Linked DNA regions of Homo sapiens. The gene in region 3 interacts genetically with the main gene of each other region. Each region holds a gene or a part of one and is shown on either strand. Other genes may lie near its edges.

Region 1 (3,500 bases), about 14 Mb from region 3:
CCAGGCTGGTCTGAGCTGGTCTCAACTCAAGCAATCCACGCAGAGGTCCTGCTAGTCCTTTTTTAAAAAATATATTCATAGTGGAAGGAAATATAATGTAAATAATTATAATTACATAATTATAATGTGTAATTTATTTTCTTCCATTATAAATATTAAAGATATAGAAAATTTATAATTTTTTATATCTTTAATATTTATAATGGAAGGAAAGGCTCAGTTCCAATTAGAAGTTTACAAGAATAAAGTCGTAATTTCTTTCCTGTCAAATTTCATAGACCACTTGAGTTCTGCTCTTGGACTCCTGGGTTTTGTGGACCCCAGATTAAGAACCCTTTCTTTTCTTTTTCTTTTTCTTTCTTTTTCTTTCTTTTTTTTTTTTTTTGAGACAGAGTGTTACTCTGTTGCCCAGGCTAGAGTGCATGATCTCACTGCAACCTCCACTTCCTGGGTTCAAGTGATTCTCCTGCCTCAGCCTCCCCACTAGCTGGGATTACAGGTGTGCACCACCATACCTGGCTAATTTTTGTATTTTTAGTAGAGATGAGGTTTCACCATGCTGGCCAGGCTGGTCTCGAACTCCTGACCTCAGGCGATCCACCCGCTTCGGCCTCCCAAAATGCTGGGATTATGGGCAGCAGCCACCACGCCCGGCCTAGGAACCCTTTCATTAGAGTTACTCTAAACTGTGGAAGCCCCAGTGACTGTTATTGATTTCATTAAATAACAGACTTTTTAAAAAAGTATTTAATTTTTAAAAATATATTGTGAAGGGGTAACGTATTCCAATTGTTCTGCCTGCAAAAGCATGCATATTAAAAAATCTCCCTCCAGCGTCTGTCCCTCCTGAGGCGACAGCATTACCAGTTTTTTGTCTTCCAACTGAGATGTTCTGTACATATACAAGATATGTGGATACATTTATAGTCTTTCTTTTGTTTTTGTTTTTTGAGATGGAGTTTCACTCTTGTCCAGGCTGGAGTGCAGTAGCACAATCTCGGGTCACTGCAGCCTCTACCTCCCGGGTTCAAGCGATTCTCCTGCCTCAGCCTCCAGAGTAGCTGGGAATACAGGCGCGTGCCACCGCACCTGGCTAATTTTTGTATTTTTAGTAGAGACAGGGTTTTGCCATGTTAGCCAGGCTGGTCTTGAACTCCTGACCTCAAGTGATCCACCCACCTCGGCCTCCCAAAGTGCTGGGATGACAGGCGTGAGCTACTGTGCCTGACCTATAGCCTTTCTCTTTTACACAGTTCAGTAGCACACACTCTGTGATATTCTGCCCTTTGTTTGAAATAACAGCATACCTTAGAAACTGCCCAAGAGCTAATTTATGTAGACCAGCGGGTACAATTTTATAAGCTTCCACAGTTGTTTCACGGAATTATGTCATCACCTTAAAACAATTTTTCACTAACCTTTAAACTTAACTCCAAAAAAACCCATTTCAGGTCCTCAGTCTATTCCTCATATTAGATGAAAAACAGTCTTCTTATGGTAAAGGAGGCCTCTTATCTTTTTCTCTGATTTGGAGCTTTTATTCTGCACCAGTAAATCTCACCAGCAAATTATTTTGGTTCATAAAAACAGGAGTTTCTTTTTGAAGGGGAAATTCATGTTTCTGTTTTTTTTTTTCTTTCTTTCTTAAAGAAAGGGTTTTATGTGTGTTTAGATCTCTGCACAACCAATCACCTCAACAAGTGTTTGGATTTCTGTTCCAGGAGCAGCTGACAGACGAAGAAAAGTGCTGGACAGGAAGGGAGAATTCTGACGCCAACATGCAGCGAAGTATCATGTGAGCACCCTCCCTTGCCCCTGAGTCTTTCCTTCTCCAAGTCCTCTGTTTCTTTCTCTAAATCTGTACTTAAAAAAACAAACAAACAAACAAAAACTCTTACGTTAGATTTTGAGTTGGAATTTCCAGGAGTCAAGTAGTATGGAAAATGAGCCGTGGGATATGGAAGACAGTGTATTGAACAACAGTTTTTAGTTGCAAGGAGCAGAAACCCTAACGCAGTGGTTCTCAGTCAGCAGCAATTTTGCTCCCCAGGGAACATCTGGCAGCGTCTGGAGATTTTTTTTTTTTGAGTTGGAGTCTTGCTCTGTCACCCAGGCTGGAGTACAGTGGCGCAATCTCGGCTCACTGCAACCTCCGCCTCATGAGTTCAAGTGATTCTCCTGCCTCAGCCTCCTGAGTAGCTGGGATTATAGGCACGTGCCACCACGCCTGGCTAATTTTTGTATTTTTAGTAGAGACGGGGTTTCACCACGTTGGTCAGGCTGGTCTCAAACTCCTGACCTCGTGATCCGCCCACCTCGGCCTCCCAGAGTGCTGGGATTTCAGGCGTGAGCCACGGCGCCCGGCCAGTGTCTGGAGATATTTTTGGTTGTTACAACCTAGGGACAGAGGGTTTGCCATTGGCATCTAGTGGCTAAAAGCCAGGCATGCTGCTAAACATCCTTCAATTCATAGGACAGCCCCCCCAACAACACAGAACCATCAGGCCCAACATGTCAATAGTGTCTAGGTTGAGAAACCTCGTGTTAATGCAGTCCGGCTTCAGGAAGACAAGAAAGGGCATGACTTGACTTATATCATTGAAACCTGCTGGAGTAAACAGCCTCAGGCTTGGTTCGATCCAGTTGCCAAAACTTCCTCCCTGGGAATCTGTCTCTCTCCATTGTTCAGCTCTACTGTCCTTGAGGTTGTCCTCACCCTCAGGCGGGCTCTCCCCTCTTAGCGGTCCCCTTGGAAAGAGGGTGTTAGAGCCCAGTTTCACTGGCCCAGCCTGGGCCACATACCTATCCCTGAACCAGCCACAGGGATGCAGCCTGGATCACGTGTCCACCCCTGGTCACAGGCAAAAGGGCCAGCCCACTCAAATCGTGTGTACTGAGAGAATGTGGGGTAAGAAGCATCCCAAGAGGAAAACGGAGGGGCTGTTACCAGGAGGAAAAAATGGATGGTAGAGAGACCCAGACAAGGGCATCCATCCCAGAAACCTGGGCGGTAGTGGCTTACACAAATGCTGGGTTCCGTTTTTCTCCCGTGATGAGGAATCTGGGGATTGTCTCTCCAGGGCTGATGGTGCCTTCGATTGCTTTCTGTCCACTGGCTTTTGCATGATTTTTCCTTTTCTTTTTGAAGATTAAATAAACCTCTTATTCTGGAATAATTTTAGAGGTACAGGAAAGTTGCAAAGACAGTACAGAGAGGTCCTGTATACCCTTGGCCAGTTTCCATTGTCAATATCATACATTACTATGATCCGTTTCTCACCACTGAGATACTAATGTCAGTACATTACTCTTAACTGAACTCCATACTTTATTATTCAGATTTCACCAGATTTTTTTTTTAATGTTCACGCCTTCCAACATTTTTTTTTTTTTTTTTTTTGAGACAGAGTCTTGCTCTGTCGCCCAGGCTGGAGTGCAGTGGCGCGATCTTGGCTCACTGTAAGCTCTGCCTCCCAGGTTCAGGCCATTCCCCTGCCTCA
Region 2 (3,500 bases), on a different chromosome or scaffold from region 3:
TAAGTAATAAATATTTTAGGCTTTGTGGGTCCTGTAGTCTCTGTTGCAACCACTCAACTTGGCCATGGTAGCACAAAAGCAGCTAAAGACAATATGTAAATGATGGGTGTAGCTGTGTTCCAGTAAAACTTATAAAAAGTCCGTGGGCTGGATTTGGTCCAAGGGCTACAGATTGCACACCCCTGGTCTAGCCCAAGCATCTGTGCATGGTGGCTGGCTTCCCAAAAGTGGAAGCTGCTAAGCTGCCTTTTTTTTTTTTTTTTTTTTTTTTGAGAGGGAGTCTCACTGTGTTGCCTAGGCTGGAGTGCGGTGGTGTGATCTCGGCTCACTGCAACCTCCATCTCCCGGGTGCAGGCAATTCTCATGCCTCAACCTCCCAGGTAGCTGGGATTACGGGTGCCTACCACCACGCCTGGCTAATTTTTGTATTTTGGTAGAGACAGGGTTTCACCATGTTGGCCAGGCTGGTCTCAAACTCCTGACCTCAAGTGATCCACCCGTCTTGGCCTCCCAAAGTGCTGGGATTACAGATGTGAGCCACCGTGTCTGGCCGCTTGACAAGCTTCTTAAAGGCACTGCCCTGAACTGGCACAGTGTCACTTGTGTCACATTCTTTTGGTTGAAGAGAGTCTCAGAGATGGCACAGATTCAAAGGCAGGAGAAATAGACTCCAGCGCTTAAAGTAAGGAGTAGCATGTGCCTACAGAATTGGAGGAACTGTTGGAGGCCATCTTTGAAGAGAGACCACCACTATCCATGGCTTGGCACGTGGGAATCACTGCTCTATACCAGGGTTGCAGACTCATGTCTTTGGGGGCCAGGCAGTGAGTATAAATGAGTCAAGTGGGCCAGTTGGAAGATGGAGTCAGACCTGCAGTGAACTCCCAAACACATCTGCTACCGGGAGGGGCAGCATTACTCAGCTCCAGCTCAGCGTCATCAGGCAGGAAGGCGAGGCAGTGTTGCCGGATGTGCCAGTGTTTCAAAAGAAGCCAGAGACTCCATTTTTATTTTTTTGTATGGAATCTCCTGATTTTGAAATATTGGCAGATAATTCAAATTATCTTAAACACTACAGGCCAAACAAAACATATCTGTGGGCTAGAGACAGTCTGCCAGTTTGTAACTATTTCTCCAGATCATGAGTAAATTTGGCTTTACGATGGTCACTCAGTTCTTATTACTCTAGGTTGTTCAAATGAATTAAAAAAGCTGAAATTATATGAATAAACCCCTGGGCACACATGAAAGAAGTGAAAAACCCATTGTTTCCTATTGTAGAAACATGGAAGCATGTCAGAGCCAGAGGATCCAGAGGAAATATTCTCACTAGCCTCAGACCCTCAGGAGTGAGGGAGCTTTTCTTGTTAATGGCCACGCTTGTGCAGTTTTCCTTCCCAGGTGCTGGTGAAAGAAACCCACAGTCTTGGAATCATGGAAGTGATACCATAATGACTGTCAGTTGACGTTGCTTTAAAGAATGAAGCCACAGAATTGTGCTGTTAGCATGTCGTGAGCAGTTAGTTGAGTTGGTGGCTTGTAATTTACTCTGTGTGGATGTTATTGATCAAAGCTTTTCATTATTGACAGTGTCTCCATCTGCTGTTTGCTGTTTTTAGGGGAAACCACCCTTTATGACTCAACAGCAGATGTCTCCTCTTTCCCGAGAAGGGATATTAGATGCCCTCTTTGTTCTCTTTGAAGAATGCAGTCAGCCTGCTCTGATGAAGATTAAGCACGTGAGCAACTTTGTCCGGAAGTGTAAGTTTGGGGAACTTTTTCTTGAAAACTGTCCTGAGAGAGAAAAACTAGAAAGATGCTTGAGGCAGAATGAGTTACTGGTTGATAGTAGTCGGTAAGAACTCTGGTTCTATATAAGACAGATCCAGGTTCAAATTCAGGCTGCACCTCTTATAGCTGGGAGACCAGGTAAGTTGGGCTTCTTGGTTGCAAGCGACAAACTTAATTCAAAGACTGAATTTAGGCCAGGTGCAATGGCTCATACCTATAATCTCAGCCCTTTGGGAAGCTGAGGTGGGTGAATCGCTTGAGCCCAGGAGTTCAAGACCAGCTTGGGCAACATGGTGAAACCCCATCTCTACAAAAAATACAAAAATTAGCTGGGTATGGTGGCTTGCACCCGTGGTCCCAGCTGCTGAGGAGGCTGAGGTGGGAGGATCACTGGAGCCCGGGAGGTTGAGGCTCAATGAGCTGTGATTGTGCCATTGCACTCCAGTCTGGGTGACAGAGTGAGACCCTGTGTGAATAAAAGAGTGAATTTATTGGCTCATGAAACTGAGAAATCCAGGAATGAGTTAAGTTTTAGCTTTAGGCATAGCTAGTTCCAGAGACCTCAATAATATCCCGTGGCCCTGTCCTTATACTCACTCAGGGCTGACTTTCTATTAGGCAGAGTAGGCACGGTGCTTAGGATCTGTGATATTTAATTTTAATGAATTTAATTACTTTTAATTAACTGAATTAAATTTTAATTTGTTTTAAAATTATAGGAAAAATGAATATAATAATGTATAATGATTCTGGATTACATTCATCTTTATACTAATGTAGTCATAAAATATAATTTTTGTTTTTTTTGGAGACAGAGTCTTGCCCTATTACCCAGGCTGGATTGCAGTGGTATATCATGGCTCACTGCAGTTTCAACCTTCTAGGCTCAAGCAATCCTTCCACCCCAGTGGCTGGGACTACAGGCTCACACTACCACGCCCAGCTAATTTTTGCTTTTTTCTCTGTAGAGATAGGGTCTTACTATGTTACCCAGGCTGGTTTCAAACTCCAGGCTTGAAGCAGTCTTCCTGCCTCAGCCTCCCAAAGCTTTGGGATTACAGGTGTGAGCCACCATGCCTGGCCCCATAAAATATAATTTTTGAATTCTTTTTTGTTTTTAATGGAGGAAGGGGCTGAGGAAGGCAAAAGTACCTAGGGCCTATGAAGTCATATATTGGCCTTGCCTTCACCCTGTTTCTGACTTTGCTTGACTTCCATGTGATGAGGCAGTTGGCTGTTAGTGTCCCAGTTTCATACTCTTACATTAGTGTTTTTCAACCAGTGGGTGATTTGACGTTTTCGGTTGTCAGAGCTAGTTGGGGGTGGTGGTGTGTGAGTTTGGGGGGAAGGGTCCTACTGTCAGTTAATGGGTGAGGCCAGAGATGCCACCAAACACCTTACAGTGCACAAAGCAGCCCCCATAACACAGAATTATGTAGCCCACAATGCCAACAGTGCTGAATTTGAGAAACCCCACCTTGTACAACATTGCTGTGCAACCAACCACCCTAAATATTACTGACTTAAAACAATAGTCACTGTGGCTGGGCGCGGTGGCTCATGCGTGTAAGCCCAGCGCTTTGGGAGGCTGAGGCGGCGGATCACTTGAGGTCAGGAGTTCCAGACCAGCCTGGCCAACATGGTGAAACCTTGTCTCTACTAAAAATACAAGAATTAGCTGAATGTGGCAGCGGGCGCCTGTAATCCCA
Region 3 (3,500 bases):
CCCTGAGGGGCTGCAGTCAACCTGAGGCTCTCTTCGGCCCAGGCTGGAAGGTATCTCAGAATTCAGATGGAATTCTTCATATTTTATGTACATTCATGTGAGTAAATAGAACATAAATAAAAACAAACAAAACCCCTCTATTATCAGGGCATGGCTCTGGGATCAGAAAGGAGCAAGCATGGCTGGGCATGGCGGCTCAAGACTGTAATCCCAGCACTTTGGGAGGCCAAGGGGGGGTGCATCACCTGAGGTCAGGAGTTCAAGACCAGCATGGCCAACATGGCAAAAGCCCATCTCTACTAAAAAATAATAATAATAAATAAATAAATAATAAAATTAGCCAGGCGTGGTGGTGTGTGCCTAGTCCCAGCTACTTGGGAGGCTGAGGCAGGAGAATCGCTTGAAACCTGGGAGACGGAGATTGCAGTGAGCCGAGATCACGCCACTACACTCCAGCCTGGGTGACAGAGCCAGACTCTGTCTCAAAAACAACAACAAGAAAAGGAGCAGGCATAAAGGACAGGTTTGTAAGAAAGTGGCGAGCAGTCCCAGGCTGAGCAGAGATGCCGCAAGGCGAGCGGGTGTGGTCAGGACACAAAGGTTCAAACTGATGTGTTCAGGATTTCATCAGTCAACCTTATTTGCTGCTAGGCATGGAAACAGTCTAGGGCAGCTGTACTGACCTGATCCACAAACCATGGTTCACTCGGAACCCACCAAAAGGGACCAATGGCCAGGGGGATGGCAAGACAGCTGTCCCTCCCCACCCCAACACACACAGGGCCAGGGGCCGGGCAGTTTTCGGCACTCATACCTTGGAGGCAATGATGAACAGGGAGGACTCGGGGTTCAGCTGGGCCAGGGTTTTGGCAATGTGAGTTCCATCAATGTTGGAGACATACCAGACGCGGGGACCTCCTGAAGAGTATGGCTTAAGGGCTTCAGTCACCATGAGGGGTCCCTGCGGGGAGACATAGCATCAGAGAATAAGAATTCAGGGCCCACGAAAAGTGGAGACAGCCAGGTCCCATCCCTGGAGAAAGTAAAGACCTGAGTGGGACCAACAGTGCCCAGACTCCCACCCTACCCCAAGGCAGTTTTCTCCTCACCAGGTCGGAGCCGCCAATGCCAATGTTGATGACGTCCGTGATGGTCTTGCCTGTGTACCCCTTCCAGTCACCGCTCCGGACACGCTGGCACAGGGGCGAAGATGCCATCAGCCCAAACCCCCAGGCATAATCCGCTGCTCAAAAACATCATTACTGCCGTGTCCTGGTACCTCAGTCCCAGCTTTCAGGCCCTCGCAGGTGCCTCTATTTTTTTGTTTTTAATTTACCATATATATATATATATATATATTTTTTTTTTTTTTTTTTTTTTTTTTTTTTTTTTTTGAGATGAAGCCTTGCTCTGTTGCCCAGGCTGGAGTGCAGTGGCATGATCTCGGCTCCCTGCAATCTCTGCCTCCCAGGTTCACGTCATTCTCCTGCCTCAGCCTCCTGAGTAGCTGGGACTACAGGCGCCCGCCACCACACCCAGCTAGTTTTTTGTATTTTTAGTAGAGACAGGGTTTCACCGTGTTAGCCAGGATGGTCTCGATCTCCTGACCCTGTGATCTGCCCGCCTCAGCCTCCCAAAGTGCTGGGATTACTGGCTTGAGCCACCGCACCCAGCTATTTATTTTTAATTTTTTTTTTGAGACAGAGTCTCCACTTTCTGGGTTCTAACAATTCTCATGCCTCAGTCTCCTGAGTAGCTGGGACTACAAGCCTGCGCCACCAGCATGCCTAGCTAATTTTTTTGTATTTTTAGTAGGGACGAGGTTTTGCCATGTTGGCCAGGCTGGTCTCGAATTACTGGCCTCAAGTGATCTGCCCAGCTCGGCCTCCCAAAGTGCTGGAATTACAGGTGTGAGCCACCGCGCCTCGCTATTTACTTATTTTTAAAACTGTGCCTTAGGGGCCAGGCAGGGTGGCTCAAGGCTGAGACAGGAGGATTGCTTGAGTCCAGGAAGTTGAGGCTGCAGCAAGCCAAGATCGCAACACTGCACCTCCAGCCTAGGTGACAGAGGAAGACCCTGACTCCAAAAACAGAACAAAATGCTCTGCTTTAGCCTTTTTTTTTTTTTTTTTGAGACAGGGTCTCACTCCGTCGCCCAGGCTGGAGTACAACGGCACGATCTCAGCTCACTGCAGCCTCCGCCTCCAGGCTCCAGGGTTCAAGCAATTCTCCTGCCTCAGCCTCCCAAGTAGCTGGGATTACAGGCACCTGCCACCCTGCCCAGCTAATTTTTAGTATTTCCAGTAGAGATGGGGTTTCGCCGTGTTGGCCACGCTGGTCTCAAACTCCTGACCTCAGGTGATCCACCTGCCTCGGCCTCCCAAAGCGCTTGGATTACAGGCATGAGCCACCACGCAAAGCCTATTTTATTTTTTGTAGAGACAGCGTCTTGCTACGTTGCCCAGCCTGGTCTCTAACTCCTGGCCTCAAATAATCCTCCCATCTTGACCTCCCAAAGTGTTGGGATTACAGGCGTGAGCCACTACACAAGGCATAGGAGTCTCTGGAGACCACACTGGTCCCTGCCACACTCACCACCAACTAGACTCTTTCCTGGTTACAACAGTGAGACATCCCTACCTTACAGCGACACTGTCAGAATTTGCAAAACCAGGGATAACTCGGCAGAATCTGCTATGCCAGAGACCAAGAGATGTGAAATGTTGAAAACTGTGACTGGGCTATGCTGGGGAAAGGAGTATCAGACCCGCAGCCAGTCTCCAATCAGACACCAGTGATCCTTGCTTCCTGGAATTCATGCCTCTGCATAGCTTCCGCCTGTGCTGGGAGGGGTGACCTATGCACCCATCCAGAGACTGCAAAAAGGGGTGAAATGTGACTTCAGAAGTGAGTTCAGAGAACGTGCAGTTTCTGCTTTGCTCTCTTGGATGACTCGCTTTGGGGAAGCTGTCTATCATGTTGTGAAGACATTCAAACAGTTTCATAAAGAAGCCCACGCGGCAGCGAACTAAGGCCTTTTTCCAAAAGTCACAGCCAACTCGCTTCCTGTGTATGGGACACTTTAGAGGGGGGTCCTCCAAACCCATCAAAACTTCCGATAACTGGGGCGCTGGCCAACATGTTGACTACAGCCTTATGAGAGATCCCCAAACCAAGACCAACCAGCTAAGCCGCTCCCAAACTTCTGACCCACAGACACTGTGAGAGGTAATAAAAGTTTACTGCTAGGCCGGGCATGGTGGCTCACACCTGTAATCCTGGCACTTTGGGAGACCAAGGCAGGCAGATCACAAGGTCAGGAGTTCGAGACCAGCCTAGTCAACATGGTGAAACCCCGTCTCTGCTAAAAAAAAAAAATACAAAAATTATCCAGGCATGGTGGCGTGTGCCTGTAATCTCAGCTACTCGGGAGGCTGAGGCAGGAGAATTGCTTAAATCCAGGAGGCAGAGGTTGCAGTGAGTGGAGATCACGCCATTGC
Region 4 (3,983 bases), on a different chromosome or scaffold from region 3:
GTACAGATTTTGAGAAATTTAAAAAAAAATTTTTTTTTGAGACAGAGTCTCCCTCTGTCACCCAGGCTGGAATGCAGTGGCATGATCTCAGCCCATTACAACCTCCGCCTCCCGGGTTCAAGCGATTCTCCTGCCTCAGCCTCCCGAGTAGCTGGGATTACAGGAGCCCGCCACCACGCCCGGCTAATTTTTTGTATTTTTAGTAGAGACAGGGTTTCACCATGTTGGTCAGGCTGGTCTTGAACTCCTGACCTCAAGAGATCCGCCCGCCTTGGCCTCCCAAAGTGCTGGGATTACAGGCGTGAGCCACCGAACCGGGCTGAGAAATAAAATCTGAGAATAAGTGTAATGTAACCCACTAGTGTCCTCTACATTTGAAAGTCAACTTTTCAATAATCCCTGAAGAACCACCTGAAAGGCATTGCTTCGCTAGGGCGATGATGCCCGATCGCCATTTTACTCATCCAATCCTACTGGTTTACCCAGGCCCCATAAGCCTCACCAGATCCCTCTTGCCTCTGCACATCTCCAATCTCCATAAAGACCTTTGATCGGATCTATCATTGTACCTATCATAGGTCTGATGCCCCTATCAAGACTTGGAGTTTTCCTAAACGCCCATGTCTTTCACATCACATCTCTCAACTCATAGCATTGCCGTACCCTGAGAAATAAATGAAGCTGGTACAAATTTTCTCTGAAAACTTGGAAGCCTGGCGCTGAACTCAACAACTTTAGCTTAGTCCGCAAAAATGGACTTAGCTAATACTGTGTTAGGCATAATGGTGCTGTTTTAACGGCTTTGACATCCAATTATTCTTTCACCAAGCCATTAACCAGAGCCAAGTTTGCCCTAGGCTGGGCAAAGGAATGCTGTGAAGTGAAACCTGGGCTGTAACCGCCTCCGAGGCCGGCTCACACCCAGGGACCCTCCCAAGCGGTTCCTGCGCCCCCTCGTGGCCTCCCTCCTGCAGTTCGCTGCACAAGCGCAGGGCCCGGAGCGGGGACGGGCGGGCCCTCCAGGCCCTCGACACACCCAATTGGCCAGGCCTCGTTGCGTGTGGGCGGGGCCGCGGCTGGAGCGGAGGAGCCCCCCAGAAGACCGCCTTCAGGGGGCGTGGCCTGGACTGTGGAGGGGGCGGACCGTGGGGAAGCTGCTTCCGGGTGAGCCCCCCCCGCTCTTACGCGGTCTGTGGGAGACCGGAGCGGGAGACAGCGGTGACAGGAGCAGCGGCCGGGAGCCCTTAGGGAGGCAGGTGAGCGGGGGCTGGATGCGGGGAGATAGCGGGCCTGGAGGGCGGCTCCAGGGCGAGGCGGGGACTGTGGCACCAAGAGTCCTGCGTCCCCAGATTGTGCTGTGCGCCTGAAGCCCTGGCGGTGCAGCCGTGCACGGAGTCCCGTGGAGCGTTTGTTTGGGCTGGATTATCCCGCTGCAGCCGAGGTTGGGGGCCCGGGTTCGGGGCTCCGCACCTCTTCTCTGGGGTTCACCCTCTCGGATACCGCCTGGGCAGACTCCATCGATGCAGAACCCGAGGTGCGGGTGGTGGTTGGTGGGGGGGTAGGGAGGTGAAAACAATAACAGCCGTTTTGTACTAAGCGTTGCGTGCATTGACCATTCATTTATTTTATTTATTTATTTATTTTTGAGACGGAGTTTCGCTCTTGTTGCCCAGGCTGGAGTGCAATGGCGCGATCTCAGCTCACTGCAACCTCCGCCTCCCGGGTTCAAGCGATTCTCCTGCCTCAGCCTGCCAACTAGCTGGGATTACAGGCGTGTGCCACCACGCCTGCTAATTTTTGTATTTTTAGTAGAGATGGGGTTTCTCCCTGTTGGTCAGGCTAGTCTCGAACTCCCGAGCTCAGGTGATTCGCCCACCTCGGCCTCCCAAAGTGCTGGGATTACAGGCGTGAGCCACCACGCCCGGCCTGACCCATTCATTTCTTACAACAACCCATTGAGGTCGGTTCTAGTCCCCATTTACTAAACGAAGAAACTGAGGTCACACAACTAGAAAGCTACAGAACTAGGATTTGTACCCACATCTATCAGACTCCAGAGCCCACATACTTAACCATCCTGCTACCAACAGCAGCCAGGCCCAGAGTCTGGCTCACCCAAAGCTCTCCACAAGCCCAACCTGCTGGGAAACAGATTTGATATCTATCCTTAAAGTATGGAGGTGTCATGGTGGGCACTGAGGACTGGGCTGCTGGAGACCTTCCCCCAGATCTGCCGCTGACCCACTGCGTGATCCTGGGCCTGTGTCTACCCCTCTCTGAGCCCAGTTTCACCCTTGTTTCAGTGATACAATCAGCAAACTTTAAGAAGACTCTTAGCCAAGATATTCTAGGATTCTGGGAATGGCAGCTTCTCCTACGTCTAAATGGCTAACCCCAGAGGCGATCAGGCTCTTCAAAGCCCCAGGGCAAGGCTGGGGTCTCATTCTTCTCTTTAATCCCTGTGTCTAGCACTTCAGCAGGCCCATAGTAGATATTCAAGAAATGTGGGTTGGCTGAATAAACACTTCATCTCTTTTCAGAACTGCATGACAGCTGCTCTCCTGGGCCTTTGTGGGGCTTTGGATTTCTCAGTTCTGGCCACCTTCTATCTAGCTGGCTCTCCTGACTGCCTCCTCCCTGGCCAGTGGCAGAGCCTGCCAGGGCTGGCAGCAGGTCCTAAGCCTCTGTGCGAAGACCCACAGCCTCTGGAATCCTCAGCATAGTACAACTTGCAGGGGTGGGGGGTGGCACATGAAGCTCATAGCCCCTCCTGGTAGCAGTGCTCAGGGCCCAACTTCAGTTACTCCCAGTTTGGGGATGTTGCCTTCCATGGGAGGAGATACTTTCATATTAAATCTGAAACACTTCTTATCCTTCACTGTCCCCTCTTCCATGAAACCACCCTTGACTCAGAGACACAGTCCCTCTGACAGCACCTGGTCCACCCCTCTACTCTGGCAGCCCGGTGGTGATTATTTTGTTTTTCCTCCACCACATAACCTGCTGGAAGGCAGGGACTCCACTTCAGAAATCTTGGAAAACCCTGTGGCCCACAAGGGTTTGAGCTCATATTCCCATCTGGTGAGGTGCAGAAGGCACAGAGCTGTGCCAGGACATCTCGTTCCAACCCAGCCCCACTCCTAATAGTAATAAAAGTAGCTACATGTTTACTGTGCAGCTACTTGGTGCCAGACACCTACCTTATCCCTATCAATAATCTCCACAGCCTTGCAAGTTAGAGATATCATGCCTATTTTGTAGATTATGAAATGAACACTGAAAGGTCAATTACTTTGCCCAAAATTACACAGCAGAGCATAGACCAAACCTGGGACTGTCTGACCCTGAAACATGGATCTTTCTGCACCGCCCTATACTCTGCGTCCCAGCAAAGCTAACCTGTCTGATGTGGTTGGGCAGAGGTGCTGGACCTCCTGGCGGCTCGCTCCTGTCTTCAGTGTGGTAATGTCACAGGCATTTAAATTGTGGTTTGCAAGCTCGCTTGATTTGGGAGAAGTGCCCTCCCAGTCTGTGAAATTCTCCCAAACTCTAAGGGCCTTTTTGCAAAGCAAAACCCACCCTGCATTTGGCTCTGCCAATATGTGATTCAGGGGGTGTTTTCCCACTCACAGAATGGAGTGGGAAACTCCACTTATTAAGTACCTCTTACAATGGAATGACTCTATGGTGTAGGTATCAGGGCACTGAAATAGAAGCCAGGAGCTGCAGGGTCAGTTTATAGCTCTGTATGTCACTCACTGTGATCTCCAAAAGTCCCGTTGCCTCTTTATACCCCATTTTCCACATTAAAGTGTAAGGGATTAAACAGGATTGGCAATTTTCAAGCTTTTAATATTTTCAGCACTGACAGCCGTTTCTCAAATCAAATCTGTCTCTGAATCTTAAAATTCAAAAACAGATCAAAGTGGACTGCTGTAGTGAGACTGTTCCCTTTACTCTAACCCTGCCCCGGTCTCAGGCTC

The links. Genes that interact genetically often act in the same process or in processes that back each other up.
Region 1: changes in GPI (region 3) and LIG1 together harm fitness less than expected from each alone (positive genetic interaction), as found in Homo sapiens cells (one large-scale study listed by BioGRID).
Region 2: changes in GPI (region 3) and CIT together harm fitness more than expected from each alone (negative genetic interaction), as found in Homo sapiens cells (one large-scale study listed by BioGRID).
Region 4: changes in GPI (region 3) and ALAD together harm fitness more than expected from each alone (negative genetic interaction), as found in Homo sapiens cells (one large-scale study listed by BioGRID).

The regions. Positions count from the first base shown.
Region 1 is NC_000019.10:48,163,845-48,167,344, reverse strand, and holds part of LIG1 (DNA ligase 1), read left to right. Parts: intron 1-1,721; 5' UTR 1,722-1,778; coding exon 1,779-1,795; intron 1,796-3,500.
Region 2 is NC_000012.12:119,867,321-119,870,820, reverse strand, and holds part of CIT (citron Rho-interacting kinase), read left to right. Parts: intron 1-1,619; coding exon 1,620-1,761; intron 1,762-3,500. UniProt on the Homo sapiens protein: Plays a role in cytokinesis. Required for KIF14 localization to the central spindle and midbody. Putative RHO/RAC effector that binds to the GTP-bound forms of RHO and RAC1. It probably binds p21 with a tighter specificity in vivo.
Region 3 is NC_000019.10:34,375,196-34,378,695, reverse strand, and holds part of GPI (glucose-6-phosphate isomerase), read right to left. Parts: intron 1,194-3,500; coding exon 1,110-1,193; intron 962-1,109; coding exon 815-961; intron 1-814. UniProt on the Homo sapiens protein: In the cytoplasm, catalyzes the conversion of glucose-6-phosphate to fructose-6-phosphate, the second step in glycolysis, and the reverse reaction during gluconeogenesis.
Region 4 is NC_000009.12:113,398,485-113,402,467, reverse strand, and holds the start of ALAD (delta-aminolevulinic acid dehydratase), read left to right. Parts: upstream 1-1,183; 5' UTR 1,184-1,256; exon of another isoform or gene 1,257-3,983.